Linked DNA regions of Homo sapiens: all the other regions are linked to region 1. Evidence: fine-mapped expression QTL. A gene starts in region 1. Each other region holds a variant in brackets. All regions are shown on one strand. Distances are from middle to middle.

Region 1 (7,581 bases):
AGGCTGAGGTGCGTGGATCACCTGAGGTCAGGAGTTCAAGACCAGCCTGGCCAACATGGCAAAACCCTGTCTCTACTAAAAATACAAAAAAAAAAAATTAGCTGAGCATGGTGGCAGGTGCCTGTAATCCCAGCTACTTGGGAGGCTGAGGCAGGAGAATCGCTTGAGCCCAAGAGGCAGAGGTTGCAGTGAGCCGAGATCATGCCATTGCACTCCAGCCTGGGCAACAAGAGCGAAACTCCATCTCAAGAAAGAAAGAAAGAAAGAAAGAGAGAAAAGAAAGAAAGAAAGAAAGAAAGAAAGAAAGAAAGAAAGAAAGAAAGAAAGAAAGAAAGAAGGAAAGAAGGAAAGAAGGAAAGAAGGAAAGAAGGAAAGAAGGAAAGAAGGAAAGAAGGAAAGAAGGAAAGAAAGAAAGAAAGAGAGAAAGAAAGAAAGAAAGAAAGAAAGAAAGAAAGAAAGAAAGAAAGGTGATGTGGGAGTGCTTCAAGTAAAAGAAAAATTATCCCTGCCATGATATTCTCTGTGCAATGCTTCAATATGCTTATCAAACAAGAGAACTATTGCTGAAAGAATTTTAGCATCTTTTTTACTAAGGCTTCTTTTTTCAATTTATTTGTTCAAAGGTTCCTGGATCGTGGGTTCCATTTTACAGAGATATGAAAGCCAATCCGATAGTGTTGCAGGTATTTACACTGCCTTTAAATTTGTACTTTTCTCTGGGAATGACAGGGGAGAAGCAGATGGTGACACCAGTGGGGTTTCTGATTTGAAATGACACAGTCTATATGATTAACCAGCAACAAGAGGCCAATCCAACCAGAATCTAGGACTAAGACTGAGTTTTGAGTGTTGGCAACAGGAAGAGTGTGCTGAAAGCACTCTGCCCAGGCAGAGTGTAGAGAAAATGGATTCATCTAGAAAATTATAAAAGACGAAATGAATATCACAGCTCTAGGGTTCAGACACATGCTCATTTGAAACAGTCCATAATATAGACTGATTGTTTTTTGTCAACTCATTATCCAAGAGCCAAGAAGTGCTGCATGAATGACCATCTGGAGATGAAGTTAAAGTGAAAGCCAGTGCTGGGAAACTAGTCACTCAACACCCAAACTGAATCCAGCATTTGTGGAAAGACCTCAGGCTGTGGCACAGATGAGAGTCAGGCGTTCTGACTGGCCCCACTATAGCCTCCAGGAGGGCTCTGTGGATTGGGGTTGGCAGCACTTCCTTAGATGGTGACCCTGCCTTCCTTCCTTTAGCCCACTTTCTTTCGCCCTCCTCTCTTCACGGAGTGCTTTCATCCTTCAACTAAAATGTCTGAAACAACCTTATTTTCCATCCTGGCAAGCTTGCACCATCCTCATTCATAGCTCATCTGGGAGCCTTCTTTTCCTTAAAGTAGGATTAATACAAGCGATAGCTTATTCCCTTTAGACTTCCAAGATCAAAAATAAATACGTACATACATGAAAATGGCAGAAAGAAGGAACCATGGGAGGGTCGCCTTTTCTTTTTCTCTTTACCACAGAACAGAGCGCAGGACTATAGTCTGATTGTCCTACAATCTATTCCATTTATTTTCACTCCCAATAGATGGTGTAATTTGGAAAAGAAAAGACACTCACGGGGCTTAACAGAGACCCAGTAGGAAACGCATAAACGTCTCCCTGCAGCACAATGATGCACTCGCTGCATCTCGGGGCTGCGGTACAAATGCTCAGTCCCTGCTTTGCTGAGCTGACCCGAGTGGAGCGGAGCGGTGGAGATTTCACCACGCTAACCCCGCTGGGCCTCGGCACCTCCACACAAGCCCCATTCCATCTCCTTCTTCCCATCACTTGGTCCATAGATCAACTGATTCCGTGCCTCGTCCCCCATATCCGTCCCTAAAACCTACCCTGCACTGATCCACCTTCAGATTTCCCACTGCTCCTCCGCAGAACCCACCCAGTGTGCATGTTTGTGCACATTTTGACAGAAAAAGTATTTCGTTGCATATGGATCAGCAACCCCTTCGCGGTTCTGCTTGCTCCCCTCCCCCTCCTCCCGCTGCTCCATTCACCTCCATCTCAGATCCCCCTCCTCCCCCCAGTCCGGTGGGGTAAAGAAAGCCTCCTCCAGGCAGCACAATGGCTGGCACTCTGAGGAAGCCGGACTCATCCCGTGCAGGCCGCATACACACTCCACTGCCCTTCCGGCCAAACAAGCCCGGACACGGGAGAGGGATGAGAGTCGGGGATGCCTAGCGGCGAGGAGAGAAGGGATAGGCAAAAGGGAAGAAGAGCGGGCTGTGATACCTCCTCGACGCCGTCAAACACTGCTCCCCGCATTCCAGAGCCCGGGGCCCACCCGACGGCAGCGCGCCCCGCCACCGCGCAGCCGCCCCGGTCCCTTCTCCCGCCCGTCTGTAGTAAAACAATCGCTCTCCCGGCGTCTGCGGCCGCTGCCAGCGGTTCTGACACTGCAGGAATGCGCGGTCTGGGGAAGGCTCCGCACTCTGGGGAGGGGCACGAGCGGGGTCGGGGGTAAGTTTTTAGGGACAAAGATGATCTTGGGGCGTTTACGGTGACTGGACCAGATAACGGTCCCGGGACGAGGTACCGACCCACTGCCCCAGCGCGATCGGGCGGCGTTCCCTTCTTCCCCCAGCCCCCATACCTCGCCGCCCTGCCTTCACACGCGCGCACACACGCGGGCACACACACGCGGACACACACACACACACACACACACACACACACACACCAGGCCTGGCTGGAGGGCCGATGCTGAGATGATACTGGAAGTGCCCATCATCCCACATCTCCAGGGCCTGGCGCGGCGTCCCAGCTGCGCTCCCTGAAGGGCTGGGCAGGAAGGCGACGGCCTCCCGTTGTTCCTTTCTAATCCCAGAATGGGACCAGGTGAGGGGAGCTGCGGCGACCCCAGACCGTCCTGTCAGAGAATCCCGGGGCCTCCTTACCACCCCCACCAGACCCCACCCCCAGCAGTGAGTCGGGTCCTAACTAAAGTCAACCCCCGCGACGGCACCTGTGCGGGTCCTGGCGGAGGGAGGCGGATCCCGGGGCTCAGCCGGACACCCCCATCCACGGGCCGCGGGAGCGGCCGGAGCGCAGCGCAGCGCAGCGGAGAGCCAGCCAGCCAGCCAGCCAGCGAGCGCTCCCCGCGCAGCTCCGGCGGCGCCCGGCTCCGCTCCCGCCTCCACCCCACCCCTTCCCCGCGCTCGTGCCCGGGCTCCGGGGGCGCGCCCGCGCTCGGGCACCCACCCAACTGGCACGCGCGGGAGCTGGACGTCATCCCCTCGTTAACATTCATAGCCTTCCTCCGAGCACGTGGGCTTGCCTTTATTAATATTTATGCATTTCTGTTTCTCTCCTCTTTAACATTGGCCTTTCTGCTTCCCTCATGAATATTCAGAAACTCCAAGATGAAAGCGTGCAATAACTACCAATATGGATACCTCGCAAAGCCTGACACTAGTTTCTGGATAAAATGCAGGCGATGGCTGCTGGCGGATGCCGGCAGACACACTCAAAGACCCTTTTGGACTTTCCGAGTTTCCCATTCTCCTCTACTGGAGGCTGAGGCGGGCAGGCCCAGCGACGTCTCCCAGCTCCAACTGGGTTCGGACCTCAAGCCAAAAATGAGGAGGCCGGCAGGAGAGCTTTTCTCGCCCAAAGATGCTGGGTGGGAGCTGGATCCAGCTGAAAAATCTGAGTGAGAAGGTTTCAGGCCCAGGAGGACTTGAGATAATACAGGAAAATTCAAGAGGCTGAAATGAGAAGGGTCCCTGGAGTCTTGTGAAAAATTATTAATTTATCTTGTCTACTGTGCATAGGCCTGTGCTTATAGAAGTTGTCAATAAAAAATCTAATAATTCACGAATACACACAACTAAGAGCACAAGAACTGTAATTATCGAAGGAAGGCACTGGAAAAAGCATGTCGGCTTGGAGAACCCCAAGTACTTTTGTCTGATGGCAAAGTACCTCTGGGCTGAACTGAGGACTTCAACTGGAAGGGGCAGGGAGCGTCTCTTTTGCTCGTTTATGCATTCATTCCACAGACATTTCAACCATGAGAAGGATGGAAACAGGAATAATGTCCCAATGAGATGAGAAGAAGCGTTGGCCTATTTGCCTTTGTGGGAGCAATAGACAGAGGATGTCTTCCTGTAAGAAATCATAAGGCCAGGCACGGTGGCTCACACCTATAATCCCAACATGTTGGAAAGCTGAGGCAGGAGGATCACTTGAGGCCAGGAGTTCAAGACCAGCCTAGGCAACATAGTGAGACCCCATCTCTATAAAAAAAAAAAAATTAGCCAGGCATGGTGGGCCCATCCTGGTAGCCCATCCTGGTAGCCCCAGCTACACTGGAGGATGAGGTGGGAGGATCGCTTGAGCCCAAGAGGTTGAAGCTGCACTCCAGCCTGGGCGACAGCAAGACCTTGTCTCAAAAGTAAATAAATAAATAAATAAATCACAAAGAGTAGCTGGTTAAAAGATCCCTAGATCTCCTTTCTTGGGATCATGCCCAGTTTTGTGACCTTGGGTTAGTTAACTTCCCTGTGGCTCATTTCCTCATCTGTAAAATGAAGAAAATAATAGTGCCCGCCGGGCGCGGTGGCTCACGCCTGTAATCCCAGCACTTTGGGAGGCCGAGGCGGGCGGATCACGAGGTCAGGAGATCGAGACCATCCTGGCTAACACGGTGAAACCCCATCTCCACCAAAAATACAAAAAATCAGCTGTGCGTGGTGGCGGGCGCCTGTAGTCCCAATTACTCGGGAGGCTGAGAATGGCGTGCACCCAGGAGGCGGAGCTTGGAGTGAGCCGAGATTGCGCCACTGCACTCCAGCCTGGGTGACAGAGCGAGACTCCGACTCAAAAAAAAAAAAAAGAAAGAAAATAATAGTGCCCCACTCTATTGTGGCCTGTTGTGGGATTAAAGGAGTGAATATGAGTAAAGTACTTCCAGGTTTATTAGAAGGCACTATATGTATGTATGTGTGTATATATATACACACACACATATATATGTCATATATATGTCTCATATAGATGTCCCATATATACGTCTCATATAGATGTCCCATATATATGTCTCATATAGATGTCCCATATATGTCTCATATAGATGTCCCACATATATGTCTCATATAGATGTCCCACATATATGTCTCATATAGATGTCCCACATGTATGTCTCATATAGATGTCCCACATGTATGTCTCATATAGATGTCCCACATGTATGTCTCATATAGATGTCCCACATGTATGTCTCATATAGATGTCCCACATGTATGTCTCATATAGATGTCCCACATGTATGTCTCATATAGATGTCCCACATGTATGTCTCATATAGATGTCCCATATATATGTCTCATATAGATGTCCTATATATGTGTGTGTGTATATATATATGTGTGTGTGTATATATATGTGTGTGTGTGTATATATATATGTGTATATATATGTATATATATATATGTCTTGGCTAATTTGAGGCCATCTTTTGTCTAGATCTTCAGAGCATGGGACAAACAGATTTGAGAGAAGCTTGTGAAGTACTGAAAGTGATAAAGAACTTGGTCTTCAGCTGGTGACCTTGTTAGTTATCCTCTCTGTACCTCAGTTTTCTCATCTGTAAAATGGAGATGCCAATATCTGCTGTTGGATGCCAATATCTACTACAAGGTTGTTGTTATGCATATTAAGTAATATAATGCATGCAAAATGCTTAGCACAGTGCCTGGCATATAATAAGAAACCAATTAGTGGATTCTGTGGTTATTTTTGTGAGGCTATGAAGAAACTGAAAGCTGAGGACAAGTAGCCTAGGCTAGGTACCTAGGATGAGAAATCCCTGAACATGAGCCCAGTTATTCTTCCAGCAAACACTTATTTTATTGTAGTAAGATATATATAACATAAAAATTACTATTTTAACCATTTTTAAGTGTACAATTCACTGGTATTAAACACATTCACATTGCTGTGTAACCACCACCACTATTCATCTACAGAAATTTTGTTATCCAAACAGAAACTCTGTATCCATTAAACACTAACTCCCCAGTACTCCCTTCCCCAGCCCCTGGTAACCACTATTCTAATTTTGTCTCTAAGAATTTGACTATTCTAAGTACCTCATGTAAGTGTAATTATACAATATTTGTTTTTTGTATCTGACTTATTTCACTTAGCACAATGTTTTCAAGGTTAATCTATGTTGCAACAATGTCAGAATTTCTTTTCTTTTTAAGGTAAATAATATTCCATGGTATGTATATACTACATTTTGTTTATCTATTCATCTGCCCATGGACATTTGGATTGTTTCCACCTTTTGGCTATTGTGAATAATGCTACTAATCTGTCATGGGATTAGAGTGAGAAAGAAAGAATAAAAAAATAATGCTGCTGTCAACATCGGTGTACAAATTCCAGCAAGCATTGGTTGCATTCCATGACCTAGGCTAGAAGCTGGGGAGCTAAAAATGAAGGCATGCTTTCAAGAGGTTCCATGTTTAGTATGTTGATTTCCAAACTCTGCTGCTTAGAACCTGCAGTGGATTGAATGGTATTTTCCTAAAATTTGTGTCTACTCAGAACCTCAGAATGTGACTTTTACAGATGTAATCAGTTATGATGAGGTCATACTAGATTCGGGTAGGCCCTAAATCCAATGACTGGTGTCCTTATAAGAAGAGGAGAGGAGGCTGGGCATGGTGGCTCACACCTGTAATCCTAGCACTTTGGGAGGTGAGTAGATCAACTGTGGTCAGGAGTTCGAGACCAGCCTGGACAACATGGCGAAACCCCATCTCTACTAAAAATTAAAAAAAAAAAAAAATTAGCAGGGTGTGGTGTCACATACCTATAATCCCAGCTACCTGGGAGGCTGAGGAAGGAGAATCGCTAGAACCGGGGAGGCGCAGGTTGCAGTGAGCTGAGATCATGCCACTGTACTCCAGCCCAGGTGACAAAGCAAGACTATGTCAAAAACAAAAACAAAAAATACAAGAGGAGAGCATGCATAGGAAAGGAGGCAGAGATTGGAGTAATTCAGGTACAAGCCAAATGACACCAAGGATTGCCAGGAACCACCCAAAGCTAGAATGAGGCAAGAAAAGATTCTTCCCCAGGACCTTCAGTAGGTAGCATGGCCCTGCTGACAGCTTGATTTTGGACTTCCAGCCTCTAGAACCATGAAACCATAAATTTCTATTTAAAGATCATTTGTCGTGGCAGGCCTAGGAAACTAGTACAAATTTTGGTAGTAGAAAGTGGGATGCTGCTGTAACAAATATTTAAAAATGTGGAAGTGCCTTTGGAACATCGTAATGCAAAGAGGCTGGAAGAAGTTTGAGACACATGACAGAAAAAGCCTATATTGCCCCAAAGAGACTGTTGGTATAATTATGAATATTAAGGGCAATTCTAGTGAGGCTTCAGAAATGAGGAGACTGTAGAGAAAGTTTCTACGGTCATAGAGAATACATATATTATTATAACAAATAGGAATATGAATGTTAAAGGTGATTCTGGTAAGGTCTAAGATGGAAAT
Region 2 (7,581 bases), 25 kb before region 1:
TACTCCCTCTTTATCTTTACCCAGGCTGGCTTCTAACTCCTAGGCTCAAGTGATCTTCCTACTTCAGCCTCCCAAAGTGCTGTGCTTACAGGTGTGAGCCACCACACCCAGCCCATAACATAATTTTTAAAATGATTTCCTGTTTCCATTTCTTTATAGTAGAAGGTGGGTACACAGGAGATTGGGCACAAATTTATCAGCCCTTCCTCCTCAAACCCTACTAAAATGAGAGTCAAGGGATCAAAAAAGAATAACCCAAAAGGGACAAAGTGAACAGGAGAAAAGGCAACAGCAAGAGAAATGCCAGAAAACAGACGCCGGCCCAGCAGGCTCAGCAGGGTTAAACTTGGCGAGAGCAGGCTGCCCAAGGTAAAGGGGGTCACACAGCAGATACTGAATGGCTCAGGAATTGCAGACCCCGAGGGGCAGCATGGCGGGGCTATGTAAGGAAGATTTGCTGGTATTCTTCATCAAGAATAATGAGACCCAAGTGTCTTCTTCCAACCCAGATAAAAAGGGACTGCATCCTCTCAGCTCAAAAGGACTGTAGACTTCACTCTGAGCAGGTTGAACTGGAGGTTCTGGACTCAGAGCACCAGGCCACCTAAAAGTGAGGGTGAGGGTTCTCACCAAAAACAGAGAGAGGATGTAAGACTCTACAGAATGACTCACCAGACAGACCTCTGGCCTCCTTCCCTGAGTAGGCTCCAAGGACACTGGCAGCTGGTTTATTCTGTCCATCAAGCCATTGGAGAACACCTCTCTATGGATGCTATAAGTCTACAAATACATGCCAACTGTCAAGATCTCCGAACAAGACGCATAGGTCCTTACTGGCACTGTGATCCAGCAGGAAACAAGCCCTGACCCCATAGCCTTCTAGGGCCTCACTTTCTTTTTTTCCAAGGGTTTCCCTCTGTCACCTAGACTGAAGGGGAGTGGCTTGATCTCAGCTCACTGCAACCTCTGCCTCCCCGGCTCAAGCAATCCTCCCACCTCAGCCTCCTGAGTAGTTGGGACTACTGGCGCATGCCACCATGCCCAACTAACTTTTGTATTTTTTGTAGAGATGGGGAACTTGCCATGTTTCCTAGGCTGGTCTCAAACTCCTGAGCACAAGCAATTCACCTGCCTCGGCCTCCTAAAGTGTTGAGATTACAGGCGTGAGCTATCACCAGCCATTTTTTTTAAAATTAATGTTTTTAGAGACAGGGGCTTGCTCTGTTGCCCAGGCTGGTGTGAAATGGTGTAATCATAGCTCACTGTAGCCTCAAACTCCTAAGCTCAAGCGATTCTCTAGCCTCAGCCTCCCAAGTAGCTGGGACTACAGGTGCATGCCACCAGGCCCAGCTAATGCTTTTTTTTTTTTTTTTAATTTTTTGTAGAGACAGGGTCTTACTGTGTTGGCCAGGCTGGTATTGAAAATTCTGGGCTCAAGTGATCCTCCTGCCTTGGCCTCCCAAGTAGTTGGGACTGCAAGTGCACTCCATCCCCTGGCTACCTTTTTGTTTTTTTTGTTTTTGTTTTTTGGTAGAGTTGTAGAGATGGGGCTGGTCACAAACTCCTAGGATCAAGGGATCCCCCTGCCTTGTCCTCCCAAAGTGCTAGGATTATAGGAGTAAACCACCATGCCTGGCCATAAAGCCTCACTTTTAAATATGAAAAGATGCTCAAGGATTGCCAGACATTTGAGAATAGCCCCCAACATGAAAGATGAAAATGTATAGAGAAGAGAAATCAAAAGCAACAGAGAGAGCAGAAGAAACCTCTTCTAAGAAACTGCTATACCTGCCTTCAGAAGGATAACAGAACACCTTGCTTCCTCAAAATGTGTCCTATTTATCAGAATTCATTTAAAAACTACAAAGATGTACACTTACTAAGACCAGAAAAAAATTTTAAAAACACACAAATTCTGTAAAAACTGGAAAGGGCTCTTAGAAATTAAAGGTATGATAGAAAATTTAGACTTTTCCATCGAGCTGAAGGCTGAGAAAGTTCCCTGGAGAGTGAAACAAAATAAGCAGATAGAATTATGGGCGGGGAAAAATATTCAGAAGATCAGCTTCAGAAGTCCAATACTTGAATAAAAGGAATTCTAGAAAGCAAAAACAGAAGAGATGGCCCCTTTCAGCCATGACAGAGTAACTGGTATTGGACTTATCCCTCCTACCATAAACAACTACAATCTGGACAAAATCTATGAGCCAATTGTTTTCAGGCACTGGACACAGGCAGTGCAAGGCTGTGTGTTTTGAAAGAAGGGAAAAACATGAAATAAATGAGATAAATAAATGAAGGCTAAAGGAATCTGTCACCTGTGGCTCTACACCAAAAGAAATGCTATAAAAAGCATTTTGGGTTGAAAGGAAATGATAGAAAATCAGAATCTTCAGGAAAAAATAAGGAATGCCAGAAATGATAAATACATAGGTAAATATTTTAAAAGTATCTTTTTTTTCCTTCTTTTGATTTTCTTAAAAGACAACTAACTGTCTAAAGCAAAAATAATAACTTTGTGTTGTGGAGTATATAATGTAGATTGAAATAAAATATATGACAATTATAGCACAAAAGATGGAAGGAATAGACTTTATACTGTGACAAATGTTTTACATTTTATGTAAAGTGTACAATATTAATTCTAAATGGACTATGATTAATTAATAATGTATAGTGTAACCCCTAGAGAAACCACTAAAGAAAAATACGACAAGGTATAGATAAAAATCCAACAGAAGACATAAGATGCAAAGCCAAAGAATATTTGATTAACCCAAAAGAAGACAAAAAGTGTGGAACAGAGGAACAACAAAACAGCAACAAAACCAGATGGGACAATCAGAAATGAAGACAATACGCTCCAACACAAATTATCAATATTATGCCAAATGTCAATGGACTACACACTATGCAAATAAACTAAACACAATAATCAAGAAGCATAAATTGTCAGACTGAATATAAAAACAAGATCCAAGTATACACTACCTGCAAAAACACACTTTAAATAAAAAGACAGAGATAGGCAGAAACTAAAAGGATTGAGATAGATACACACACACACACACACACACACACACACACTTTGCAAACAGTATGCATAAGAAAGCTTAAGTGGCTACATTCATATCAAACAAAGTAGATTTTAAGATAAGCATTACAGAGAAAGAATGACATTTCATAATGATAAAAGGGTCAACTCATCAGGGAGATGTACTCAGAGCTTCAAAATATATAAAACAAAAATCAACAGAACTAAAGAAATAGAAATAAATGCACAACAATGGTTGGAGATTTTAATAAACCTTTCTCATTAATTGATAGAATAAACAGACAAAAAATATCATTTGGAACACAGGAATTCAACAATACTATCAACCAAGTTAACCTGGTTGACATTTATAGCACATTACAACCAACAATTGCAGAATGTGCATCATTTCCAATGGCATATATTACATTCACTAAGACGTACCATATGCTGGACCCTAAATCAGTCTGAACGTATTTTAAAAGATTTAAGTCATACAAAGTATGTTCTCTGACAAAATTAAATTAGAAATCAATTTTTAACAAGATAGCTATAAAACCTCCCAAGCACTTTGAAATTCAGCAGCAAACTGCCAAATAACCTATGGGTTAAAGAAGAAATTGCAAGAAAAAATTAGAAACTATGTTTTTAATTGAATGATGAAAACATACCCAATCAAAATATGTAGAATTCAGCTAAAACAGTGCTTAAAGGGAATTTTATAGCTTTAAGTTTTTTTAAGTTTAAAATATAATCAAATTTCCTACCTTAAGAAGCTAAAAAAATGAGGGCAAATTAAACTCCTACTAAGTAGAAGGAAGGAAGTAATAAAGCTAAGAGAGGGAATCAATAAACTAAAAAGTTAACAAACAATAAAGGAAATCAAAGAAATAAAAAGTGGTTCTCTGAAAAGATTAATAAAGGTGATAATCCCACAGACCAGCTGACAAGAGAGAGTGAGAGAGGGATGGAGGGAGAGAGAACACAAATTAACAATGTCAGGAATAGAAAAGGGAACATCACTATAAATCTTACAGACATTTTCAATAACAAAACAAAATTATAAACAAATGAATGTTCAATACATTCAATGATTAAATAGATAAATTCCTTGAGAAATGTAACTTATCAAACCTGACTCAGTAAAATTGAATTTGTAACTGAAAATCTTCCACAGAGAAAACCCTAGGCCCAGATGCTTTCACTAGTATAGTCTATCAAACATTCA[G/A]GGAAGAAATAATACCAATGTAATACAAATTCTTTCACAAAGTAGAGATAGAGAGGATAATTTCCAACTTATTTTATGACATTAGAACAAAATAAAATTTCAGAAAAAGAACATGATGCAAAAATCTTTAATAAAATATCGGCAAATCAAATCCCACATTATATAAAAAAGATAAAATATCATAACTAAGTGGGGTTTATTTTAAAATAAAATGCTGGTTTAATATTTGAAAACCAATTAATGTAATTCATCACATTAACATGATAAATTGATCTACATATATAAATTGGTCTGTAGATTCTACACAATCAAAGTCAAATTTCCAGCAAGATTTTTTGCAAAAATTCATCTGCTGATTCCAAGATTTATATGGAAATGTAAATAACCTAAAATAACTAAAACAAATTTGGAAAGAAAAAAAAAGGACACAGTTGGAGAACTTATATTACTTTATTTCAAGACTTACCATAAAGCTACAGCAATCAATACAGTGTGGGATTGGCATAAAGATAGACACATTTTAAAATAAATTAGGGATGATAAAAAAAGACACACACATATATATATCATTGAAACAGAAAAAAGAATTCAGAAGTAGATCCGCACATACATGATCAATTGATTTTCAACAAAGATGCCAAAACAATTTAATGGGGAAGGAATAAGATTTTCAATGAATGGTACTGGAATAATTGAATAGCCATATGCAGAAAAATAAACCTTGAAGCCCAGCACTGTGGAGTGCCTCGGTAGTCCCAGCAATTGGGGAGGCTGAAGCAGGTGGATGGCTTGAGCCAAGGAGCTCAAGACCAACCTGGGAAACAGCAACCTGGGAATCAAAAATTTTAAAAAATGAGCCCTGACCCTTACTCCATACTATATACAAAACTAATTTGAAGGCTGGGCACAGTGGCTCATACCTGTAATCCCAGCACTTTGGGAGGCCAAGACGGGTGGATCACTTGAGGTCAGGAGTTCAAGACCAGTCTGGCCAAAATAGTAGAACTCTGCCTCTACTAAAAATACAAAAATTAGCTGGGCATGGTTGCAGGCACCTGTAATCCCAGCTACTCAGGAGGCACAGACAGAAGAATTGCTTGAACCTGGGAGGTGGAGGCTGCAGTGAGCCAATATTGAGTCACTGCACTCCAGCCTGGGCAACAGAGCAAGACTCCATTTCAAAAAAAAAAAAAAAAACAGAAAGAAACTGATTTGAGATGGATCATAGACCTAAATACAAGAGCTAAAATTATAAAACTTCTAGAAGAAAACTTAAGAAAAAAATCTTAGTGACCTTGGGTTTAACAAAGATTTCTTAAATACAACATAAACACAAAGTATAAAAAGGAAAATATCAATAAATTGGACCTCATCACATTTAATTTTCCTTTTCTTTTTTTTTTTGAGATGGAGTCTCACTCTGTTGCCCAGACTGGAGTGCAATGGTGCAATCTCAACCCACTGCAACCTCTGCCTCCCGGGTTCAAGCAATTCTCTTGCTTCAGCCTCCTGAGTAGCTGGGATTACAGGCACGTGCCACCATGCCAGGCTAATTTTTTTTTTTTTTTTTTTTGTATTTTTAGTAGAGACAGGGTTTCACCGTGTTAGCCAGCATGGTCTCAATCTGCTGACCTCGTGATCCACCCACCTTGGCCTCCCAAAGTGCTGGGATTACAGACATGAGCTACCACGCCCGGCCTAATTTTTCTTTTTGAGAGGGGATCTCACTATGTTGCCCAGTCTGGTCTTTAACTCCTGGCCTCAAGCAATCTGCCCACCTTAGTCTCCCAAAATGCTGGGATTACAAGCTTGAGCCACCACACTCAGCCTTCATCACATTTAAAAAACATTTGCTCTTCAAAAGATAATGTTAAGAAAATTAAAAGGCAACCTATAGACTAGGAGAAAATATTTGTAAAACATACATTCAACAAATAATTTTTATCTAGAATTTATAAGAAACTCTTATGGCCAAGCACGGTGGCTCATGCCTGTAATCCCAGCACTTTGGGAGGCCAAGGCAGGCGGATCACAAGGTCAGGAGTTCGAGACTAGCCTGACCAACATGGTGAAACCCCGTCTCTACTAAAAATACAAAAATTAGCCAGTCATGGTGGTGTGCATCTGTAATCCCAGCTACTCAGAAGGCTAAGGCAGGAGAATCACTTGAACCTGGGAGGCAGAGGTTGCAGTGAGCTGAGATTGCACCACTGCACTCCAGCCTGGGTGACAGAGCAAGACTCCAACTCAAAGAAAAAAAGAAACTCTTACAACTCAATACTAAGAACACAAACAATGTACTAAAAAAATGCACAAAAGATTTGAAGAGGCATTTCACCAAAGAAAACATACAGGCCGGGCACAGTCACGCCTGTAATCCCAGCACTTTGGGAGGCCGGGGCAGGTGGATCACTTGAGCTCAGGAATTCAAGACCATCCTAGGCAACATGGTGAAATCTCATCTCTTCTAAAAATACAAAAATTAGCTGGGTGTGGAGGTGTGCACCTATGGTCCCAGCTACTTGGGGAGCTGAGGTGTGAAGATTGCTTGAGTCCGGGAGGTGGAGGTTGCTGTGAGCTGAGATTGAGCCACTGCCCTCCAGACTGGGCAACACAGCAAGACCCTGTCTCAAAAATACACACACACACACACACACACACACACACACACACATTGTAAATAATCACTTGAAAAGATGCTCAATATTCTATGTCACTAGAGAAAAGCAAATTAGAACTGAAATAAGGTATCAATTTTGTTACTACCCATGAAGATGTCTAAATTTTAAAGATTGTCCATAACAAGTGTTAGTGAGAATATGGGACAATTACAGCTCTCAAACTGGGCAACAGTTTGGTAGTTCCTTAAAAATTTAGACATGGGAGTTAAATGATGAGAACAAATGGACACACGGAAGGGAACAATACACACTGGGCCCTACTGGAGGATGAAGGGTGGGAGGAGGGAGAGGATCAGGAAAAATAACCAATGTATACTAGGTTTAATACCTGGGTGATGAAATAATCTGTACAACAAACCCCCATGACACAATTTACCTATGTAACAAACCTGCACATGTACCCCTGAACTTAAAATAAAAGCTAAAAAAAAAAAGTTGAACATACACCTACCATATGACTCAGCCATTCCACACATAGGTTTTTATCTAAGAGAAATGGAAGCATATGTTCACACAAAGACCTACAGAAAAATGTTCACAGCAGCTTCATTTGAAATATGCAAAAAGTAGAAAAAAAACTGTTCATCTATAAGCGAATGAATAAGCCGCTGGTGATATATCCATACAACAGAATACTA
Region 3 (7,581 bases), 98 kb before region 1:
TCTACACACACCTCACAGTCACAATTCTCTGGGAGAGATTTCCTTCCTTGTTTCCATCCCTTTTTATATTGTCCAAACTCTCCTCTAGGCATCCAGGAGCTAGCCAAAAGCTAGGAGGGTGGGACTAAAAAGAGATCCCATATATTGCTTGCGTCAACATAAATGGATCTGGAAAAGCAATAAGCATCACCCGCTCCTAGCGGTTACATTTAATTTTGATATAAATGTAGATTCACATGCAGTTATAAGAACTCATACAGAGAGCTCCTGATTCACATCTTGTATAACCATAGCACAATTTCACAGCCAGGAACAATCCACCAACTGTATTCAGATTTCACCAGTTTTACGTGCCCTCGTGTGTGTGTGTGTGTGTGTGTGTACATGTAATTAGTTCTGTGCAATTTTATCATATACTTAGATCCACATAAACATTGTTATAGCAAAGTACAGAACAGTTCCTCCCTCCCTCCTCCACTCTACCGCTGTCAACCACTAATCTGTCTTTCTGTCTTCCATCTCTATAATTTTGTCATTTCAAAAACGTTTTGTAAATGGCATCATATAGTATATAATCCTTTGAGACTGGCTTTTGTCTCTCAGGAAAATTCCCTTGCAATCTATCCACATTGTTGGGCATATCAATAGCTCATTCTTTTTTATTGCTGAGTTATATTCCATGATATGGATGAATTACAGTTTCTTTATCCATTCACCCATTGAAGTACATTTGGGTTGTTTCCGATTTTTGACTATTAGAAGTAAAGCTGCTTTGAACAATTTGTATACAGGTTTTTGTAAGAACATATGTTTTTATTTCTCTGGGATAAATGCCCAAGAGTACAATTGCTGGGTCATATGGTACGCACATATTTAGTTTTGTAAGAAATTGTCATACTGTTTTCCAGAGTGGCTGTACCATTTTACACTCTTAACAGCAATGTCTGAGTGTTCTAGTCTCCAGTTCCTCACCAGCATTTGGTGTTGTCATATTTATTTCTTTTATTTTAACCATACCAATAGGTGTGTAGTGATATCTCATTGTGGTTTTAATTTGCATTTCCCTAGTGACTAATGACATTGAATATCTTCTCTTGTGCTTATTTGCCATCTGTATATCCTCTTCAGTGAAATGTCTAATCATGTCTTATGACCATGTTCTAATTGGGTTGCTTGTTATTTTACTGTTTTGTTTTGAGAGTTCTTTATATATCCTAGATACAAGTCCTTTGTCAGGTACTTGGTTTGCAAATATTCTCCTCCAGTATGTAGTCTTTTCCTCTTCTTCACAGGGTCTTTTGAAGAGTAAACATTTTTAATTTTGACAGCGTCCAGTTCCTCACTGGATCATCTTTTTTTTTTTTTTTTTTTAGATGGAGTTGCGCTCTGTCGCCCAAGCTGGAGTGCAGTGGCTCCATCTCGGCTCACTGTAACGTCCACCTCCTGGGTTCAAGCGATTCTCCTGCCTCAGCCTCCCAAGTAGCTGGGACTTCAGGCATGCACAACCACCACTGGCTAATTTTTGTAATTTTAGTAGATATGGGGTTTCACCATGTTGGCCAGGCTGGTCTCAAACTCCTGACCTCAAGTGATCCTCCTGCCTCGATGTCCCAAAGTGCTGGGATTACAGGCGTGAGCCACTGTGCCCAGCCTGGATCATGCTTTTGGTGTCAACTCTAAGATCTCTTTGCCTCACCCTAGATCCTGAAGATTTTTTCCTGTTTTTTTTTAAGAGGTTTATAGTTTTCTGTCTTACATTTATGTCTTTGATCCATTTTGAGTTAATCTCATCTAAGGTATGAGGTTTAAATCAAGATTCAGTTTTTTTGCATGTGGATGTCTAATTATTCTAGCACCATTTGAACAACCCCCTGTTGAAAAGCAATTTGGCAATATTTATCATAATCCACAAGAACGTTCATAGCTTTTTTTCCTGTCACTTCTGGGAATTCATCCTAAAGAATAATGCAGAAACTTTTAAAAAAAAAAAAAAAAAGCTATAAGCTTAGAAAATATTCACTGTAACATTTTTTATAAAATTGAAAAATTGGAAGTAATCTAAATACCTAACAATAGGAGACTGGTTAAGTATGGCACACACATGAAATAATATGCAACATTTAAAAATATGTTTACTCAATAACTTTCACCCATTCAGCAAATGTTTACTCCATATCCATATGTGTTCGTGCTGAAGATAACATGGTGAGCAAATTAGACATCATCCCTGCCTTCTCAAAGCTCATAGTCTAGAAGAGAGGATAGAGAAAACAATTCTGGCACTTAGAAAAATAGATTTGCTAAACTAGAGGGAAAAAACAGAAAACAAAATTGCATGCACAAGGTTATTGAAACTATGTTAAAATATATGGGTGTAGGAAAAAATCATTCTTTAAGGCGATTGGATCGAAGACAGGTTTTTTTCACCCTGCTTTCCATACCTTCCATAGTATTTTCTTTTTATGATAATAACAGCAGTAAAGAGCAAAGCTTCAATTGCAAAATAGCTTCTTGCCACGAAAAGGTTAGGAATGTCCATTTGAAGAGGCAGCAGGCTCCCGTACAGCAATCCAAAGGGCATGGAAAAGGCCACAGCAGACAGTGAGGTAGCTGGTGCCCAGCTAAGTCATGCTGGATTATTCAGTCCATCAGCAAGTATCCACAGAGCGTCCACAAGGTAACCGGTATCCCATGAGGCACTCAGAATGCTTGTTTAAGAATAGACAGTCCCTGAGCTCTAGAGGCACTTATAAGAAATTCTGATCTCCATCTTCCTCAGGCTTGCCTGGTCCTTCACACCTCACAATGTGCTACCATGTATACGCCCTCATACAATACTCACAACAAACCTGTAAAGTTGTCAGGGAGAATCTAATTATCCCCATTTGTTAGCCACTAAGGCACAGAGAGCTTGAGCAACTTGCCCAAGCTCACACAGATAGTAAATGACAGGCCGGGGGCTTGGACCTGGCCTCCCATCGCTAAGGCCAATGCTGTTCTCAGAATACCACAACTGCCTCAAGAACAGCTGTGATAACAGAGGGCTCAGAGCAAAGGAATAATTAGCAGAGAGCCATCATTAGAACTGAAGTCATGGGGATGAGAAGGCACCGCCTACCACTTCTGGGCCTTTTGGCCAAGATCAAGTGTAGGAAGCATGAGCTACGGCAGGGGGTGGGCTCCCCTCCCCTGGGGTGGTGGGGGCTGGGGGTCCAGGCAGTGAGGGAAATGGGATGCAAACACCTGGGCTCACCTCTCCTCCCTCTCCACAGATGGTGAAGGCAATCCAGGTCCTGAGAATCCACCTGCTGGAGCTGGAGAAAGTCAATGAACTCTGCAAGGACTTTTGTAACCGTTACATCACCTGCCTCAAAACCAAGATGCACAGCGACAACCTGCTCAGGAATGATCTAGGGGGGCCCTACTCCCCCAACCAGCCCTCCATCAACCTTCACTCACAGGTAACACCCAGAGCTGGGTCCCATCTCTTAAGCCAGGCTCCTAAGCCCAGCTCTGGAGCCACGCGTGGAGGAAGGTCCCCTGGTGACCTTCACTGGGTTAGACCCACTGGGTTCCTTTGCCATGAGGGCCCTCCTCTGATGCACTCTTCTTCATATCCATTAGGCCATCCCATCCCTTTTTTACACACAGTCTGCCCTGCCAGGGCATTAGTATTCCCTTGAAAATGACCAGATCGGAGAGGGACAATGTCCAAAATCATTCCTGGCTTCCTGGCCCAAGGTATCCCCCAGAATGAGCACCAGAGCTAAGGAGAAGGAAAGCTCTCCTGGAGGATGAGCTGGGACAGGCTTCTTAAGAGGCTGCGGCTTGCTGAGCCATCTGCATTTCTGGGAAAGGGCATTTGGGGAAAGCAGTCATTCCCTGAATCCTGCCCACCTAATGGGTGAAGCCAGCTTCCCATGGGCCTGCTGCTCCCTAATCATTCTCCAGGCACTCACGCTACTCTGGCATCTCTGTCCCCCTAAGGTTCAGGGCCATGGTCAAGGTCACCTCAAACCACCCTGTTCCCAGGTTCCCCTGCCACCTCCTTCCTGAGACCTGGGAAATGCAGAAATGCTGACTACACGCTTTGGGCAAGATGGGGTTTCCCCTCCAGGGCAGGATATTTTCCCCAAACCTACAAACCGAGAAAGCTGCCTGGCAATACCTTCCCGCCCAACTCACAGACATCTGCATAAGCCACAGGCTTGAGACTTTGTTCCCCTTCCACTGAGCTCCTGAGTCCTGGAAGACACCTGGAGGGTCCCCAAGGAGTCCTCTGTAGCCTCTTCTCATTAAACAATCAGGCATGGGGATGCAGGTAAACTTTCTAGGAGTGAGTGCCGAGAGGTGCTGGAAGTAGTGCCAAAGAAAGGCTGTGCCGTTTTTGTCCCTAGACCCCTAAGGAACCACCCATGTACTCTATCTCCCCAGATTGGTGGAGTCAGGGGAGGGGACAGGCTGACTTCTAGAAGGCCAGCCTTGCTTTGCACATTTTGACAACAAGCACAAAAGATACACTCGGTATCACATCCAACCCACCCCAGTGGGCTCTTTGTGAGACTCCGTAGTGAGTACTGCCCAGGACATAGGGCAAGAAGTTTACTTCCTCTTCCTCTCGCTTGAAATCACCAAGTCACTTTATTACAGATCTAAAAACACCCGCCCGGGCTTCTGCCTGCTAATATTCTCTTGAAATAGACTCATTCCTTCAGAGTCTTATTGTACTTTCCCTTATGATCAAAATTAGCAAGAAACTTGCATAAAAGAGGACAATAATTGCTCAACGAGCATCTCGTTTGTAATTTATTAGTTTCTATTATTGTGGGTTACCATGGTGACGCTGC[G/A]CAGTCCCGGTGATGGGAGAGATGCAAGATAGGAGCTGAGGAGGCTGTGAGGCCTCGCCAAATGGAGATGCACATTTTTATCAGTAATTTTCATGAAAATAATAAGTGAGGAGTTAATGAGATGGAAAGCCATCCTGTGGCTATTGTGAATTTTTTTTAAGTGTTGATCTAATTAGAATGCATCGGTCAGGAAAAGTAATGAGGATTTAGTGCCTCACAGAGATGTGAGGATCATATCAGAAAATTAGCACAAGTCTTTGGAAATAATCAGGTCCTTGGAGAGGCACTGGATTTCCCCTCCTGGGCCCTCCAACTCCACCTCGAGCTCTGGAGCTGGGGGTGCACCAGGGTAGTGGGGGAAGGAAGGAGGGGCAGAGGGCTTAGCAGCCACCTCAGCCCCCTCAGGGTTGGAGGTCTGAGACTGACAAGTTGGTCTGCAGAAACCAGTCGGTCACTGGAGAAGTGGGGTTTGCAGAAAAGGATAACGCGGACTCTGGATGGTTAAGTTCTCAGAGATGCTGCCACCTGCAAAAATCAGTCCCCCTGGAGAATCCCGGCACTCAGCCTTCTGAGCTTTGAGGAAAGACAGAAGAATTTTGATTCCTATCACTGGAAGCATCAGATCTCTGCCTGGAAGTGAGGCTGGCCCTGGGGTACCCACGGCAGAAAGGCCATTGATCAGCTGGGAAAGAGGAATCAGACAATTGCGTGGTGGGTGTGGGGGAGGGGGTGATGCAAGCGAGGCACTGAGAAAGAGAAAAGACACTAGTGAGGTATTCCTACTTGGTATTACTCAAACTTGTCCCTGCATTTTCTCTGACTGCCACCACCTGCTTTGTTCTGGCTTCGGGGGTAAATACGGTGATTACACATAGGCTATGACAGGAGCTTCCTAACCTGCTCTCCTGGCCATCCCTCAGCCCACCTGCACACCCATGCATCTCTTAAGCTTCTGCTGCTGGATTCATCTTTCTAACTTTGTTCATGTCATTCGCCTGCTCAGAAACCCTGCTTGCCATGCCCCTGGGGGTGGAAGGGAGGGCTTTCACATCTGCCCACCTGACATTCAAGGCCCTCCTAGGTCTGGCTTCAGCCTTCCTGGGTGGGCCAATCTGACTGTTCAAGGTGCTGTAACCATCACTCCATGCCTGTCTGTTCGGGTGACACCTCCCCCACAACCCCATCATCTCTGCACAACCAAACCCAGCTTCTTCCCCAAGGGTAGGAACAAGGCTGCTCACCCAGGAGGACTCCCTGATGCCCCATCCAGAATGGACGCTTCCTGCACTCCACTAACTGGTGGAGCTTGCTGAGCCATCGATATGGCAAAAGTCACTGTGACTTTATATTATAGATCCCTGTGTTCATCTCATTTTCCTATCCTAGATAACACTTTTTGAGCAGAGACAGTATTTTACATGTTTGAAATCACCAAATCACCTTATTATAGGCCAAAAACAGCCATTTCCAGCCTCTGCCTGCTGATAGTCTCTTGAAATAGACTCATCCCTTCAGAGTCCTAGTGTACTCTCCCTGTGACCCCAGCAGTGGCTACCACAAGGTCTTGTGCAAGAAAGATGGCCGGGAAGTATTTATTGAAAGAAATAATGGAATGAGAGAAAGAAAGTTGGGTGGGGGGCAGGGGCAAGGGGAAGCCAAAGGAGGAAAGGAGAAATAGGAAGAAAAATAAAGGGAAAGAAAGCCAAATATGCAGGGTCAACATTCAGGAGGGAAGCAGAGACAGGCTGAAGAATTGGAGGAAAAGAGCAAGAGAGAGAGACAGGGAGGCACACAAACCCAGGAAAAGGGAGACGATACTGAGAACGACGGGGCAGAAGGACAGACGGAGAGAGGAACGGCAGCAAGAGTGACAGCAAGTGAAAGGACAATGCATGTGGCTCAGTGCGCAGCCAGGGTACGAGGAGGCGGGAAAGTCAGGAGGATGTGCTATGTGCTGCTCCTGTTGTATTACTCAAACTTGCCCCTGCATTTTCTCTGACTGCCACTGCCTGCTTTGCTCAGGCTTCAGGGGTAAATACGGTAATTACACATAGGCTATGGCAGGAGCTTCCTAACCTGCTCTCCTGCCTTCTCTGGCCATCCCTCGGCCCACTTGCACACTCACACGTCTCTTAAGCCTTCCCAGGACAGGCCCCTGTCATTATTGCACTAAGGTAGGGGCCGGGCTTGCATGGGCTCTCCCAGGAAGGAGAGGCCCAGGGCTGCTAAGAATCGGGGACCGAGACTTTCAGTGCAGGAGGCAGGTCTTGGGTTCAAGACACAGGAGCCTGTATGAGAGAGAGAAAAGGAGCTTGTGAGTGTGTGTGTGTGTGTGTGTGTGTATGTGTGTGCACACGCGGGCACATGCATTCGTCATGGTTCACCCTTAATCCCCCCGGCCTGAAATAGCCTGAGCACCAGCCTGGCCTGGGGAGGGGTGTCTCCCCTCTGGAACATGATCCTCTGGATCAACATTCCAGCCGCCTGCCAGCTTTGTTGCAAACTGCTGGCTCATGGTTTTCCCTGTGTGCTAATCATCCAGCCTTGTGTTGCAAAGCGGGAGACATTTTTGTTTTCAACTTGGTATCCCCACTCCCAGATGCTATGCCGTGTCCTCCATCCAGATCGATGGGTTGAGCGTTTTCCTGCTCGGCCTTCGATTTCTCTGTGTGAGTCTTCTCTGCTGGGCAAAGTGGAGATGGGAAGTAAGGGAGACTGTTCTACCAAGCAGGGG
Region 4 (7,581 bases), 67 kb after region 1:
GTTAAGCATGGACTCATGGAAAACTGGGATGGCTGCCTTGTCTTTCCTGAGTCCTTAAAGCTCTTGTTATTAAAAGTTCTGCATTCCATGACTCATCACGGAAAAGATAAAATGATCCAAATTAAACATATATTGGTGTGGTGACTTCTAAATTGCTAAAATAGTTTATGACTAATGTTTCATTTGTCAAAGCCATATTCCTGGAAAGACGATCAAAGCTATAGGTAAATTTTGCTACCTGACGGGCCACTTAAACATTTATAGAGGGATTTCATCCAATTATCTTTTTTTTACCTTGAGACAGTCTTACTCTGTCATCCAGGCTGGATTGCAGTGGCATGATCTCAGCTCACTGCAACCTCTGCCTCCTGGATTCAAGCAATTCTCCTGCCCGAACCTCCTAAGTAGCTGGGATTACAGGTGCCTGCCATCACGCCCAGCTAATTTTTGTATTTTTGGTAGAGAGGGGTTTCACCATCTTCACCATCACCATGTTGGCCAGGCTGGCCTCGAACTCCTGACATCAAGTGATCCACCCACCTTGGCCTCCCAAATTGCTGGGATTACAGGTGTGAGCCATCACACCTGGCCAATTGTCATTTTCAATTCACGTTTTCTAGTTGTATAAAAGCTTTCCTATGCAAGAGAGCTAATGTTATGATAGTAGATTATTATGCCATAGTGTATTTTGACAAGGTAAAGAAAGCGTTTTATGGTTCACTGACTGAGTACAATCAACCCCTTCATAATCTAGAACCTGAAGACTGGATCTTCTGAGAACATCAGAAAAACACTGCCCTTGCCATCTACACTGTAGCAAAACTTTGGGACCTTGAACTTTGGGTTCACAATCTCACAACCAAGAAGGGTCCCTCTACACTCTTGGAACTGTACACCCATTGGAACCCTTAAGGAAAAGCTAACCTGGGAAGTTTCTCCTAAGAAAATGGCATCCTTGATGTGGACAGCTTTTCCCAAGATCATGAATCAAGACTTCTCTACTATCATGAGATAGTAGAATATTTATCTTTGAATATTTTTCCCTTTGCTTATGCCTCTATAGACAATAGAGGTGAAAAGGGGGTCTGTTCTGTGCACTTATGGGGTATACTTTTATTTGTCAGGGATTTTGTAGCCAGCTTTATACACAGATAACCTTACATTTTGATAGATGAAAGATGAAAGCCCAACGTAGGTTGAGAAACTTTAACGATACATACATTGCCTCACAGTCAGCCAGAAACAGAACATTGGTTCACTACTCTTAACCCACATCATGGGTTAAAGAGAATATTGCCAGGAGGCCTTCACTCTTCTAGAAGGACATCATTTGTTAGGTCCTTTTTTCGACGGTTTGGAGTAAAAGAGGCAATGATTAGAAATGTATCCCTCATGATAGGCTCTATAGCAGATTCTGCTGTAAAGGCCATGGTTATGCAACAGACTTTAAATTCTCTTGTGAAAGTTATGCTAAATAATAGTATTGCTCTAGATTACTTACTGGCTAAACAGAAGTATCTGTGCACCTGCTGGCACTTGTGGTCTATGGAGAAATACCTCAAATGTACATTATAGAGATTCAGTTGCAGGGGATTAATTAAGAGACTGCTTAGTTACGTGAGTAGACTCTTTATCTAACTCATTCTTTGATCTATTTAGTTTTACGTGGTTTGGTTTATGGAGACCATTGGTAAGGAGCATACTCCATACTCTTGGTGTTAGCCTCCTGATAGTCATAATAGTAGTCTCTCTGGTGTGCTGTATTCTCTCAAAGATTTTAAGTGTTTGCATGCAGCCATCTCTAGAATGTCAAATGGTCTCTCTTCAACTACAGTTTCAAGAGCTGAAAGAAATGTCTGACCATAAGGACACTGTAACCTATAAGTGATGTGCTGAGACCGGAAACCCAAAATGATGGTAACTGAGAGTGGTGCTGAGGCCCTAAGTTTTGGTCACACCCTCACCTAAGTAAGAACCTGACTGAAAGGGGGGAATTTTAAAACAACATTATGGGAGGCCATTGTTTTGGACTGAGCTCATGAACTAGGCCCCAGTGGACCAGACCAAACCAAAATGGAGTTACTCATGCTAAATGTGACATAATCAAACTAAGACTTTAAGAAAACACATAGGTTCTAGACCAGACCAGGTTTTATTTTTCTCCTATAAACAGGATGTTCAGGCATAAGGAGGTACCCTCTACTCAGTCTTTGTTAAGGAGGTACCCTCTACTCAGTCTTTGTTCCTACTTTACAAAACCTGCTGTTCTACTATTTCCCAGTGGGTTTCAAGACCAAATAAGTACATTTATGATGGTATTAGTGACATCAATGACTGAAGTTTTGGTCAATCTCTCAAAATTGAGAAGATGACCAAAAGTGGGGAATTTTTAAATCAAGATTAGCCTATGCCTACTAAAGTATGACAAGAAGAAAAAAAAGTTTAGCCTAAAGCTGCCTCCTTATATATTTTAAGTTGAACCTAAAGGTTTATCTGTACATCGTGAACTGTAACAAGTGGAGGTGTAAACAGACCGTAGCCTACAGTTGTGCCAATCACAAGGTTTTGGCCAATGAAATGTAGCCAATTGTTTGAACTGTGTTCAAATAAGGCAAACTCCAACCTGTAACCAATCCAGCTGTCTGTACCTCACTTTCGTTTTTTGTATGTCACTTTCCTTTTTCTGTCCATAAATCTTCTTCCACCATGTGGCTGCACTGAAGTCTCAGAGCCTACTCTGGCTCAGGAGGCTGCCCGATTCACAAATCATTCCTTGCTCAGTTAAACTCCTTTAAATTTATTTCTGCTAAAGTTTTTCTTTTATCACTACCAAACTACATAAAAGAGCTAATCAATTGACTTAAAAGAAAAGAAATGCTTATCAGATTAGTAAAAATTAGCTCAGACACTTTTAATTCACATGATCTTGGTAATCTTTGGTAAAATTAATTTGTTAAATTTAACCTCAAAACTGTCTCCAGTAATTTAAAAGGTTTAAGTCATATTATGTTAAAACCTCGATTTTTTTTTCCATAGGAAATTTGGGTTACTAAATTAAAATGGAGCATAAAAAATGTTTTTGGCGAAGTTTATAAAACACAAAGATAAGGATTTTGCAAAAAACAAAAAGTGTGTTTCTTTCTAGTTAAGAAACAATTGAAAAGTCACTTTAAGCTGAAGGAAAAAGTATACAAGTAAAAGTAATGGTTAAAAAAACAATTAAGGTCCGGACGCGGTGGCTCACGCCTGTAATCCCAGCACTTTGGGAGGCTGAGGCGAGCGGATCACAAGGTCAGAAGATCGAGATCATCCTGGCTAACACGGTGAAACCCCGTCTCTACTAAAAATACAAAAAATTAGCCGGGCCTGGTGGCACATGCCTGTAGTCCCAGCTACTTGGGAGGCTGAGGCAGGAGAATCGCTTGAACCTGGGGGGCAGAGGTTGCAGTGAGCCGAGATTGCGCCACTGCACTCCAGCCTGCGCGAAAGAGCGAGACTCCGTCTCAAAAAAAAAAAAAAAAAACACAAATTAAGACAGGGAAATAAGTTTATCTCAGAGACCTGTGGCTTCCAAGAAGATAGTTGATGTGGGTGAAAGGCAAAACCAAGTAACTATCAAAACCAGAGGATAGGCTGGGCACAGTGGCTCACATCTGTAATCCCAGCACTTTGGGAGGCCGAGGTGGGCGGATCACGAGGTCAGGAATTCAAGACTAGCCTGGCCATTATGGTGAAACCTCGTCTCTACTAAAAATACAAAAATTAGCTGGGTGTGGTGGTGGGCGCCTGTAGACCCAGCTACTTGGGAGGCTGAGGCAGGAGAATCGCTTGAACCTGGGAGGTGGAGGTTGCAGTGAGCCAAGATCATGCCACTGCACTCCAGCCTGGGTGACAGAGCAAGACTCCATCTCAAAACAAAAAACAAAACAAACCCAGAGGGTATAATGTAAAGGAATGGTTCCATTTTGTAGATTGGTATCATCAGCTTCTTAAAAAATCTTTACTATAGTGGATTGTAAAAATAAACAATTTATGGACAAAATCCTTAATTTTAAATGCTACAGAATTGAAGAACTTGTTTGGGTTAATGCAGAGCCCACAGCTCACTATTGAACAATCACTGATAAGTATATGTAATCTAAATGCACAGGAGGTTATTCCTGAAAGAATGATCAGCTAGCAGACCAGATAAATGCCACTGTAAGGTCTGTTTGCCCTGTGAAGC[G/A]GACTACCCAGCTCTCCCTATAAAATACCAAGTGAAGCACCCCAGATGAAGCAGTTATTGAATAATATGCTTCATATGAGAGCAATGACTGGCTTTATGATAACTGGGATATCCTCCCACTGAAGATGCCTATTACCCAGGTCATGGGAAATTTGGGGGTTAAGAGGTCCCCTTTTACATAAGTTTCCCTCTTGCAAAATCATAGGACTGTTTGAGAAGCCTTATCAAATTTGCTGTTCCTGGCCAGGTGTGGTGGCTCAGGCCTGTAATCCCAGCACTTTAGGAGGACAAGGCGGTCAGATCACTTGAGGTCAGGAGTTTCAAACAAGATGTTTGTTTACCTTGGAAATGCCCTTCGTAAGCCAAACAGCTCATGAAAGCTGTCTATCAGGCACTGCAGAATTTAGCAGCTCCTCACATACATAGTTAGAATCAGTCCTAGGGAGAAAGCGGCTCCCTGCTTATGAGTATCTCCTCCTTGTATCCCCAGGTGGCAAGATTTTATTTTATCATGGAACTCTTTGGGGCATCATTATTTCAGTTAGCATAGGGGTAGCTTCAGTTAACATTTCATAGCAAGGCAGTAAATGCACCTCAAGTGGAAATTCTCTAGTCCGGTAGTTGTCATTGGGAAGTACTTATAAGAGTTTTTTGTTTTGTTTTGTTTTTTGCCATTATCCCCAATAAACACTCCACAAAGGGCTATGAAGGGGATGATTTGTCCCAACTAGTACTCTAGCTTCTACCTGATACTTTGTGGGCTCAGGTGATTTTACTATTTCCCATTAACATGTCCAACTAACACTTTTCAAAAGAGCAGCTTTACATGTCTTTGGTTTTATAGTACTAGATAGGGGAAGCATCCTCCAGCTAGATACAATACCCATTTTCATAAGACATTTAGGCAAAGAGATTACAACTACGTTACATAAACCCTGTTTAAACATCTTAAATTTCATAATTCTATTAACCTGTACATTTTTTGGTTCTACCCCCAGATGATTTTACCTTTCCTGGCAAAAAAAAGGGCTTGAGTTCCCAGCAGGGAGTTGCATCTGTAAGACCCATGAGGAATGGCAGTTTTTTTTTGTTTTTTTTTTTTTTGAGACAGAGTCTCGCTCTAGTGCCCAGGCTGGAGTGCAGTGGCACAATCTCAGCTCACTGCAACCTCCACCTCCCAGGTTCAAGTGATTCTCCTGCATCAGCCTCCTGAGTAGCTGGGACTACAGGTGTGCACAACCACACCAGGCTAATTTTTGTATTTTTAGAAGAGACAGGGTTTCACCATGTTGTTCAGGCTGGTCTCAAACTTCTGACCTCAGGTGATCCACCCGCCTCTGCCTCCCAAAGTACTGGGATTACAGGCATGAGCCACCATACTGGCCAACACTTTCATTATTTTCTTTCTCTCTCTCTTTTTTTCTTTTAGCAACCACAGGCAAAACAAAGAGGAGCACTACTTTAATAATGACAATACACAACCTAAATTTAAATGAGAAGACTTTTGTGATCCATAATGGAACACAAATATGGTAGAGGAAAGGGTGTGGAATCGGGCGTTAGACAAACCTGGTTGGAGTTTTTTTTTCTTAATAGGAAGGCATGGAATTTTTTTTTAAATCAGCTACAACAGCTACTCAGGAGGCTGAGGCAAGAGGATTGCTTAGGCCCAGGAGGTCAAGGCTTCAGTGAGCCATGATCATGCCACTGTACTCCAGCCTGAGTGTCAGAGTGAGACTCTATCTCAAAAACAAAAAAAAATAGTGATAATTTTTCATTACAACACTTAAATTGTTGTTGAAATAATAAATATAAAAGGCTTGGTATAGTAGATGCTTAATAAATCATAGTATCTCTCTCTCCTAGAAGATTCCAAGGCTGGAAGCTAGGAGATCTGGCCCCTAATGATGCAGGATTTTTCTTGGCCCCTTTGACAAACTCATGGAAGGGGGCGCCTTGTCTACCAGGCCCACCACAATCAACCACTTGCAGGAGGGAGCACATGAGCAAGCAAGTTCAAGATCCAGCCAGCCACTCTGGGCACTGGCACAGGAGCAAGCTCTGTGTGGGGCCTGTGGCCAGACCAGGCATGTTGCCTCAAGAGGAACACTGCAGTGCCCAGGTGAAAGTGCCCATGACCCTGAAGCCTCAGAGCGGGTGTTACAGTGCTCCTTTAGTTTCATCATCCACAAACAGCAGTGTGTTAGTAGCTCAGTTGGCCCTTTGCCTTGTCACGTGGGGCAGCTGCCTTCCACTGGTGGGGGCAAAGGACCAGTGTGACAGCCTTTCTGGGTACCTGTACTTGGTGGGTCCCAAGCTCTTGTCCAGTGTCCAAGAAGAATGAGGTCACATGCAGGATTGAAGGATGGCGGGCCAGGTGCGGTGGCTCACGCCAGTAATCTCAACACTTTGAGAGCCTGAGGTGGGTGGATCACCTGAGGTCAGGAGTTTGAGATCAGCCTGGCCAACATGGTGAAACCCCATCTCTACTAAAAATACAAAAACTTAGCTGGGCGTGGTGGCAGGTGCCTATAATCCCAGCTACTTAGGAGGCTGAGGCAGGAGAATTGCTTGAACCCAGGAGGCATAGGTTGCAGTGAGCTGAGATTGCACCATTGCACTCCAGCCTGGGTGACAGAGCAAGACTCTGTCTCAAAAAAAAAAACAAAGAAAAAAACAAAGAAGGATGTTGAGGGCAGAGAATTTTTTTTAGTGATGAAAACGAGTCTCAGCAGTGAGGGGAGCTGGAGAAGGGACAGGAAGGGCAGGTCGTCTTCCTCAAAGTCAGGCGGTCTCCCACTCTACTGACTAAGTCAGGGGTCCTTATAGGCACAGGATGGGGAGTATGTGCAGATTGGTTTGTGGCTATGCAAGAAAGGTTAAAGCAAAGGCACCACTCAAAGGTGGGCACAACAGTGTAGAAAACCAATCAGGAAAGGGTAGGTATATGTAAAATAGGTGAAGGGTGGGGATCAATCAGAGGAAAACATGCAAGACAGGAAGACAAGTTCTCAATCTGGTCTGAGGACTTAACTTGTAGCTTGGCTTTCGAGCTTTAAACTGTTTTTGGCTTGGAGGTGGGGTTTCAATGGGGACCCGCCACTAACTGCCTAGGCATTTGGCTGTCTCCTGTCGCTATCACTAGATCTAGTATTGTTATCATTTCACTAAATCATATATCCATACAGTTAAAAAACACCTTCATATATATACCATTTATTTCAGCAGCCTGTGTTAAAGAAACTAAGGTTTGGGCCAGGCGTGCTGGCTCACACCTGTAATCCCAGCACTTTGGGAGGCCAAGGCGGGTGGATCACGAGGTCAGAAGATCGAGACCATCCTGGCTAACATGGTGA

Which allele goes with the higher level. Positions count from the first base shown, and alleles are read on the strand shown. Sizes are in standard deviations (SD) of each study's normalised expression. Not every link is listed here.
For the expression in atrial appendage of the gene that starts at base 3,178 in region 1, A is the low allele of the variant in region 3 and G is the other (small effect, 0.34 SD a copy in GTEx).

The links. PIP is the estimated chance that this variant, and not a neighbour inherited with it, causes the effect.
Region 2: its variant is the best candidate, but not a certain one, in a credible set for the expression of FEZ1 in whole blood (INTERVAL, PIP 0.85).
Region 3: its variant is the best candidate, but not a certain one, in a credible set for the expression of FEZ1 in atrial appendage (GTEx, PIP 0.66).
Region 4: its variant is the best candidate, but not a certain one, in a credible set for the expression of FEZ1 in whole blood (INTERVAL, PIP 0.50).

The regions. Positions count from the first base shown.
Region 1 is chr11:125,493,088-125,500,668 of GRCh38, forward strand. It overlaps FEZ1 (fasciculation and elongation protein zeta 1), which reads right to left and starts at 3,178. Exons shown (of 10, transcript NM_005103.5): 1 at 3,034-3,178. LOC403312 (putative uncharacterized protein MGC39545) reads left to right here and starts at 2,127. Exons shown (of 2, transcript NR_164146.1): 1 at 2,127-2,528; 2 at 3,421-6,439. RefSeq lists enhancers at 1,230-1,733, 2,236-2,739, 2,740-3,241 and a silencer at 3,116-3,365.
Region 2 is chr11:125,468,377-125,475,957 of GRCh38, forward strand. The region is part of intron 3 of FEZ1 (fasciculation and elongation protein zeta 1); the gene reads right to left. Among named protein-coding and RNA genes, the nearest start is that of FEZ1, 24 kb to the right of the region's middle. The variant G/A (reference allele first, on the strand shown) is at 4,263.
Region 3 is chr11:125,394,602-125,402,182 of GRCh38, forward strand. PKNOX2 (PBX/knotted 1 homeobox 2) reads left to right here. Exons shown (of 13, transcript NM_001382323.2): 7 at 3,273-3,461. Among named protein-coding and RNA genes, the nearest start is that of FEZ1, 98 kb to the right of the region's middle. The variant G/A (reference allele first, on the strand shown) is at 4,848.
Region 4 is chr11:125,560,025-125,567,605 of GRCh38, forward strand. No RefSeq gene overlaps it. Among named protein-coding and RNA genes, the nearest start is that of EI24, 5.7 kb to the right of the region's middle. The variant G/A (reference allele first, on the strand shown) is at 4,226.